Homo sapiens: one gene and its partner. Each later gene encodes a partner of the first gene's protein in a complex. Each region holds a gene or a part of one and is shown in the gene's direction. Other genes may lie near its edges.

Region 1 (4,233 bases):
TCACTCTCCACCACGCCCCCAGGCCACAAGGCAAAACCCGCCCCTCAACACGCGCCACGCTCCCCCAGATCTCCCCTCGCAGGGCGCCCCCTACCCGCCTCTCCTTGCCTTCAGCTCCTCGGAGTCCCAGCCGGCCCCCGCCCTCCTCTCCGGGGCCCTCCGGGACGCCGGACCGTCAGAGAGGCCCCCCATCTCTTCGCAGACCCCTCCTCCGCGCTCCCCCCGCCCCCCGCCTGCTGTACTACCTCCTTGACCGAGGCTCGATCGCAGATCACAATTTCCTCCTTGTCCTTGGGGGTCTTGACGGTGACCCGAATGGGGGGCCTCGTCTCGGCCCCGCTCGGCTCCGCCATGCCGCCGCCGCCACCCGGCCGCCCGCCAGCCCGCCCGGCTCCTCCTCCTCCCCGCCCGCCCGGCCGGCCCGGCTCGGCTTCTGCGCCTCCAACACTCCCCTCTCTCCACCTCTCCCCTCCCCTCCCCTCCCCTCCTCTCTCCTCCCCTCCCCTCCCCGAGGCTTCACCGCCCCCTCCGGACCAGCCGCAGCCACAGCGCCCCGGGCGGACCGGGGGGGCCACTGCAGCGGGGTCCGCCCAGGGCCAAGCCCCAGGTCCGGAGCCCGGCCAGGGTCTCGCCAGGCGGGGGCCCCTGGGGGGCCTCTGGGAGGGGGAAGGGGCGTGCCCTTCATTGCGGGGGCGAGGGCGGACTGCCCCGGGAGACCGCGACCCAACGCTGCCCGCCCGAGCCGTGCCGCGGTCCCCTCCAGCCCAAAGCCTCCCCGCCCCCTCCGCGGCTAACTCGGCTCCGGGACAAAGGACTTTCTGTGTCGCCGCTTTATCTCCGTTCCCTGTGATAACTTGGTCTTTCTTGGAAGCCCAAGTCCCTTCCAGGCCAGGGGACTTTCCCGACTTGGAGGTTGGGTTTTCCCACCAAGCACGTCCACCTAGGTTCTCAGCTCTGGGACTGACCCTATAGCCCCGAGGGTCGCGGCCTGAATGGTCTATTAAGAACGGTTCCAGGGAGCTGGGTTTTGGCTGCGTGGCCTTTCAGAGCCTTGGTTTCCTCAAGATAATAATAATAGTACCTCTCGCCTCATCGCACAGAATTGTGCATAACGGAGAAAACTGTTTTGAAAGTAACCAAAGGCGTGCCTGACAAATATGAGGATGTAGTATAATTATTGAATCGTGGACTGCCAAGCGGACACGTTGATTCCTTTCTCCCCGAAGGGGTTAAATGTCCTTCCAGCGCTGCTGCTGTCCTTTCACTCCCGTTCTTTTCCGCCCCCCAACAACCGCGTGGTCGGCTTGGAAAGGCGAACTATAATTCCCAGGGTGCCTCGCGAGGCCACAAAGAACTACGATTCCCAGAGCCCCCCGCGGTGGGGCGGGGTTGAGTCGGAACCACAATAGCCAGGCGAAGAAACTACAACTCCCAGGGCGTCCCGGAGCAGGCCAACGGGACTACGGGAAGCAGCGGGCAGCGGCCCGCGGGAGGCACCTCGGAGATCTGGGTGCAAAAGCCCAGGGTTAGGAACCGTAGGCATGCTGCGCCCCAAGGCTTTGACCCAGGTGCTAAGCCAAGCCAACACTGGAGGCGTCCAGAGCACCCTGTGAGTGCAGACCACGGACCCGAGCGGCGAGCGCTGCAGTGGGGCGGCGCGCGGCTCCCTGAGGGAGGGGTGGGGAAGGATCACCAGGAAGGGAGGAAGCGGCAGAGGGGGCAGCGGCTGGGGATACCGGCCGGGAGGTCCCCTGTCGAAAAGGGAAGCCGGTGTGCTGGGTGCTTAGGGCATGTTCCGGGACACGCTCAGGCCAGAGCCTTGCTGGATGTGCCCTTGGTGGGACTTGGGATGGAAACCCAGACGTTTTACTCCCCGCTCTGAGCACATCGCTATCCCTCCCCGCCCCTCACCAGGCTGCTGAATAACGAGGGATCACTGCTGGCCTACTCTGGTTACGGGGACACTGACGCCCGGGTCACCGCTGCCATAGCCAGTAACATCTGGGCCGCCTACGACCGGAACGGGAACCAAGCGTTTAATGAAGACAATCTCAAATTCATCCTCATGGACTGCATGGTATGGAGAGGGGAGCCAGACTTCCCCTGTCCCCCAAAGGGGATCCCAAGGGGGCGACCTGGACCCCATCCTGGATGGTTGGAGGGGCAGGGACAGGATCTCCGGAAGATTACTAAGAGTTGGTCTGCAGCAGCATTTGTAATAGGCAGGACCCTATTCATCAAGTGGTGGTGAGGAAGGATCCCTGGACCTGAGAGGTCTGACTTGGGTTCTGGTCTCAGCCATCCACTTATCAGTTGTGGAACCTTGGGTAAGTCGCTTAACCTCTCTCAGCTTCCTTACCTCATGTTTAAGGAGAAGACAATAATTTCCCTCTCCCCGCTCCCCTCATGGGTTGTTGTGAAGGTCAGATGAAATAATGGGTATAAACAGTAGAATGACGTGCAAACACAAAGTGTTGTCATCCCAGTTTCACCGACTCACAGAACCATGGCAGTCTCCAGACCCTAGTCCAACCCCTTAAGCTTTCAAAGAAAGGAAAATGAAGTCCAGAAAGGGGAAGTCACCATTAGATTGTGAACTTCTTAGTATCTGTTCGGTCGACAAGTATTTAGGTCCTTGCAGTATTCTCAGGACTAGGGAAAAAATAGCAAACAGAAAGACAAAACCCCCAGCCCTAATAAATCTTACACAGTGATACAATCACGGCTCACTGCAGCCTCGACCTCCCTGGGCTCAGGTGATCCTCCTGCCCCAGCCTCCTGAGTAGCCGGGACTACAGACATGCACCACCACACCTCGCTAATTTTTGCATTTTTCCAGAGACTGGGTTTTGCCATGTTGCCCAGGCTGGTCTCAAACTCCTGGCTCAAGCGATCTACCCACGTTGGCCTCCCAAAGTGCTGGGATTACAGGCGTGAGTCACTGTGCCTGGCCACATTTTTTAAAATAAGTAAAATATATAGTATATATTAGGTATTGAAAATGCAATGGAGAGAAAGCAGGGAAGTGAAAGAGTATGAGTTTGTTGGGTGTATGTGTCAGGGACAGTCTCACTGAAAAGGTGACATTTGATCAATGATCTGAAGAAAGGTGGGGGACAAGCCATGTGGTTATCTGAGGGAAGAATATTTTGGACAGAACAGCAAGTACCAAGGCCCTGAGGCAGAATTATGCCTGCTCAAGGATCAACAGGGTTGGTTGGTATGGCTGGAGTTACGTGAGATGGAGGAGGGTAGTAGGAGATGAGGTCAGAGAGGCAGGGAGTGCAGTGCTTGGTTCCTGGCATACAATAAATACCTAGTAAAAGTTTGCTGAACTTACTTTTGTTTTTTTCAAATTGGCCAGAAGGTGAACTCTCCAGGAAGGATCTTCATTGTAACTCAACTGCCTACTCTCCCCTACCCCCTGCACAACCAATGCCATTTTTAGTTCAACATATGACTCCTACTGGATGCCTAGAGCTGGTGCTATAGGGCAATAGCTTTCAAACGTTTTGACCACAACCCAGCCATAAGAAATACATTTTAAGGGGCTGGGCATGGTGGCTCATGCCTGTAATCCCAGCACTTTGGGAGGCCGAGGCGGGCGGATCACAAAGTCAGGTGTTCAAGACCAGCCTGGCCAACATGGTGAAACCCCATCTCTACTAAAAATACAAAAATTAGCTGGGCATGGTGGTGCGTGCCTGTAATCCCAGCCACTCAGGAGGCTGAGGCAGGAGAATCACTTGAACCCAGGAGGCAGTGGTTGCAGTGAGCCGAGATCACGCCACTGCACTCCAGCCTGGGCAACAGAGCAAGACTCCATCTCAAAAAAAAAAAAAAAAAAAGAAATACATTTTAAGGCTGAGCACAGTGCCTCACTCCTGTAATCCCAACACTTTGGGAGGCTGAGGCTGGAGGATTATCTGAGGCCAGGAGTTCAAGACCAGCCTTGGTGACCTAATAAGACCCCATCTCTACAAAAAAAATTTTAATAAATAAATAAATAGGAAAAAATTTTTTAAGAAAGACATTTTAAGTCAGAGCTCAACACACACATAGACCCACTAAAACAAAAGTCATGAAACAATACTTTTCCTACTACATGTAATATACTTCATTTTTTCTTTTTTGGTTTTTAATGCTGATCAACCTTCTTAATTTATCTCCTAACTGTGGGGTCAAATCTGCAATTTGAAAAACATTACCATGGGAAAAGAGGAGAAATACCAG
Region 2 (4,195 bases), on another chromosome or scaffold:
GGAAGTGGCTTGTCAGCGTTGCCTCTGGTTTCCCTCTCCTGCTTGAGAAGGAAACTGCCAGGCCTATGGCCTGAAAAGTAAGTTGGTGTGATGTAGATGCTGCCAGAGCACCCCCTTATAACCAAGAGTAAGAAAGATGGGGACTTGGCTGGATGCAGTGGCTCATGCCTGTAATCCTAGCACTTAGGGAGGCTGAGGTAGGTGGATCACCTGAGGTCGGGAGTTCGAGACCAGCCTGGCCAACATGGTGAAACTCTGTCTCTACTAAAATACAAAAATTAGCCAGGTGTGGTGGCAGACACCTGTAATCCCAGCTACTCAGGAGGCTGAGGCAGGAGAATCACTTAAACCTGGGAGGCAGAGGTTGCAGTGAGCTGAGATCACGCCATTGCACTCCAGCCTGGGTGACAAGAGTGAAACTTGGTCTCAAAAAAAAAAAAAAAAAAAAAAAAGGAAAGATGGGAACTTGCAGCCTTGACCTCCCAGGCTGAAGTGACCTCCCAACTTAGTCCCCCAAGTAACTTGGACTAGAGGCATGCCCGGCTAATTTTTTTTTTTTTTTTTTTTTTTGAGATGGAGTCTTGCTGTGTCGCCCAGGCTGGAGTGCAGTGCCGTGATCTTGGCTCACTGCAAGCTCTGCGTCTCAGGTTCACGCCATTCTCCTGCCTCAGCCTCCCGAGTAGCTGGGACTATAGGCGCCTGTCACCATGCCTGGCTGATTTTTTTTGTATTTTTAGTAGAGATGGGGTTTCACCATGTTAGCCAGGATGGTCTCGATCTCCTGACCTCCTGATCTGCCCACCTCGGCCTCCCAAAGTGCCGGGGTTACAGGCGTGAGCCACCGCGCCCGGCCTGGCTAATTTTTTTTAAAAATTTTTTGTAGAGACAGGGTCTCACTGTGTTACCCAGGCTGGTCTCAAACTCATGGGCTGAAGCAATCCTCCTGCCTTGGCCTCCCGAAGTGTTGGGATTACAAGCATGAGCCACTGAGCTGGCCTCAAGACCCTATCTCTAAAAAAATAAATACAGAGATCCTTGATCAAATACTGGTTTAGAGTGCCTCAGAGGTGCAAGAGTTCAGCTAAAATGTCAGCTCCTGCTGAGAAGGTCAGAGGCCTGCTAAGCCATTCAGAACCCTGGGGAGTGTCTACATCCTCATCAGACACGTTCTTATTTGAGACTGGCTGTAAGCTGCTCCCATTATTTTTCATGCTACGAAGGCCTCTAATCTTAGAAATAGCTCTAATTTTTTTTTTCTCTTACCTAGAAAACGCCAGGTCTTCAAGGGTGTCTGCCACCACCATGCCTGACCCATTTGGCAGCAGCCTCGTGTGTGGTGGTCTGGTGTGGACGGTGGAAGCGTGATTCTGCTGAGTGTCAGGTTAGTGTGGGTGCTCTGCAGGTGGGCTGAGACTTGGCCCAGGCTTGCTGTCCTGTGCATGTCTTGCTAGAAGGAACCTTATTTCTCTTCCCCTGATGCCTCTCAGAGAAAGGCGTGGCCTTCCTTTTCGCAGTTTAATGCCTTTACCTTTCCTTTGGGTCCTGCTACCCCTTACTCCATCAGTGGTCGCCCCATCTCCTGTTGAGCAGTAGATTTTTAAGCCACTCATCATAGTGAACCCTGTGGGCCCTTTATTGAAACTGTCTGTTTGGTTCCTGTGCCACTAGACTCTGGCTCCGGCCTTCCCCACAGCTGTGGCTCCTGAACCTCTGCCGCCCCTAGATTCCGCCCCTTTCTTGGCAACAGCTGTCATCTTTCCAAGGGCGACTTCTCAGTCCTCTCATTTATCTAACACGTGAATGTGGCGCTTCCTGTGTGTCAGGAAGGCACTTTGGAGGCGCAGTTCTGCGATGAGGAGCGCTACGACTCAAAGCAGGGCAGGGGAGGGTGTCGGGGTGGAGGGGAGCTCTTCTGGTGGGCTGGCAAGGGGTACTCTGAGCAGGGGAGCAAGTGGAGGCCGAGTGGTGAGGAGTGAGCCAGGTGACGGTGTGTGGAGCATTCCTGACCTTTGTCCCCAGCCCTGCCCTCTCCTGTCCTGCAGCCTGCATCTTTGCTGAGTTCTCAGGGCCTTCCAGCTAGAAGTTCTGCCATCTGTTAAATGCGTATGTTTCCTCTCCCGCTGCCTGTCTGCCTCCCTCTCGGAGTGCACCTACAGAGCACTAGCCCTCCATTCCCTGCCAGCCACACCCAGGGTCTCCCTCTCTGACTCCCACACCTGCCTCACTGCCAGCCCAGCTAAGGTTCTCTTCAAATGTCTGTTTTCTGTCTGCCTCTGCCATTCCCAGTGTGACCACTCGTGCTCAGCCGTATCTCAGCAGGAGGACAGGTGCCGGAGCAGCTCGTGCAGCTAAGCAGCCAACTGCAGAAACGTCAGGTGGGTGGTGCATTCGCAGGCATGCTGAAGAAGCAGTTCCAGGCATGGGCCGCCGGCAGAGAGGCTGGCTGCAGCACCCCCCACCACCATGCACATCGTCCTTTGCTTCTTCCTAGAGTTAGCGGCTTTGGCAGGCCATGCCTTGTTTGTGTTCACAGCCTGCCTGTCAGGAGCGAAGACAGAACGTCTGACTTTTGGATCCGTAACAGGGGTGGGGGCTCCCCAGAAGAGAAGAGGCTTTGGGTCCTGGCCAGTGTCCACTACTCAGTCAAACATTCAGAAACTTACATGATTCTTCATCGTCCCAAGCAAGTCTGACTTGGGCCCTTTATTGAAACTCTGTTTCCTCTCCCGCTGCCTGTCTGCCTCCCTCTCGGAGTGCACCTACTGAGCACCAGCCCTCCATTCCCTGCCAGCCACACCCAGAAAGCAATGGGGCTTTCTGGGAAGGCAGAAATATTCTGTGACCTGGGCTATTCAGAGGGGTGGCGTGAGTCGTGTGTGCCTAGCAAACACTCAGGACATGGCCGGTGAGACAGAAGGGCTGAGCTTTTGTCCTAGCTAATATATTAATTAATTAATTCATTATTTATTTTGAGACGGAGTCTCTCTGTCGCCCAGGCTGGACTGCAGTTGCGCAGTCTTGGCTCACTGCAACCTTCGCCTCCTAGGTTCAAGCAATTCTCCCGCCTCAGCCTCTTGAGTAGCTGGGACTACAGGTGTGCGCCACCATGCCTGGCTAATTTTTTTTGTACTTGTAGTAGAAATGGGGTTTTGCCATGTTGGCCAGGCTGGTCTTGAACTCCTGACCTCAAGTGATCTGCCCACCTCGGCCTCCCAAAGTGCTGGGATTACAGGCATGAACAACCGCACTCAGCCTATTTATTTAATTTTTTCGAGACGAAGTCTCACTCACTCTGTCACCCAGGCTGGAATGTAGTAGTACGATCTCAGCTCACTGCAACCTCCACCTCCCAGGTTCGAGCGATTCTCCTGCCTAGGCCTCCCAAGTAGTTGGGACTACAAGCGTGCGCCACCACTCCAGGCTACTTTTTTTTTTTTTTTTTTGAGATGGAGTCTCGCCCTGTCATAAAGGCTGGAGTGCAGTGACCTAGTCTTGGCTCACTGCAACCTCCGCCTCCCAGGTTCAAGTGATTCTCCTCCCTCAGCCTCCCAAGTAGCTGGGTTTATAGGTGACCGCCAACACGCCCAGCTAAGGTTTTTGTTTTATTTTGTTTTGTTTTTGTTGTTTTTGGTTTTTTTTGAGACTGAGTCTCACTTTGTTGCCCAGGCTCGAGTGCCGTGGTGCGATCTCGGCTCACTGCAACCTTGCCTCCCAGGTTCAAGTGATTCTCGTGCCTCAGCCTCCTGAGTAGCTGGGACTACCAGCGCACACCACCACACCTGGCTAATCTTTGTATTCTTAGTAGAGGCAGGGTTTCACTGCGTCGGCCAGGCTGGTCTCAAACTCCTGACCTCAAGTGATCCACCCGCCTCAGCCTCCCAAAGTGTTGGGATTACAGGCTCATGGGATTACAGGCATGAGCCACTGTGCCGGCCTCTCCTAGCTAATTTAAATTTTAAATTTAAGTTGTCACACATAGCTGTGGCCACCGTATGGACAATGTGGGTCTGGCTGCATGTGTCAGGCTGTGTCACATGTCAGGCTGTTGGCTGTGGCTGTCCCCACTGTGCACCTTTGCTTTTGCGGTCTCGTTTCCAGAACTTCTCTGCCAGTGAGAACCCCATGACACACCCCCATTTTAAAGCCTTCTCTGGCTTTCCTGCATTCGTTAGGAAGGCATACTGCCTCATGCTGC

The links. The genes of interacting proteins can lie anywhere in the genome.
Region 2: LAMTOR2 (region 1) and FLCN share a complex: the UniProt entries of both Homo sapiens proteins name them as parts of the lysosomal folliculin complex.

What each region holds. Positions count from the first base shown.
Region 1 is NC_000001.11:156,053,349-156,057,581, forward strand, and holds the start of LAMTOR2 (ragulator complex protein LAMTOR2), read left to right. Parts: upstream 1-1,433; 5' UTR 1,434-1,541; coding exon 1,542-1,609; intron 1,610-1,914; coding exon 1,915-2,077; intron 2,078-4,233. Other genes in the region: UBQLN4 (ubiquilin-4), read right to left, coding at 246-353. UniProt on the Homo sapiens protein: As part of the Ragulator complex it is involved in amino acid sensing and activation of mTORC1, a signaling complex promoting cell growth in response to growth factors, energy levels, and amino acids.
Region 2 is NC_000017.11:17,229,974-17,234,168, reverse strand, and holds part of FLCN (folliculin), read left to right. Parts: intron 1-1,267; 5' UTR 1,268-1,381; intron 1,382-2,286; 5' UTR 2,287-2,375; intron 2,376-4,195. UniProt on the Homo sapiens protein: Multi-functional protein, involved in both the cellular response to amino acid availability and in the regulation of glycolysis.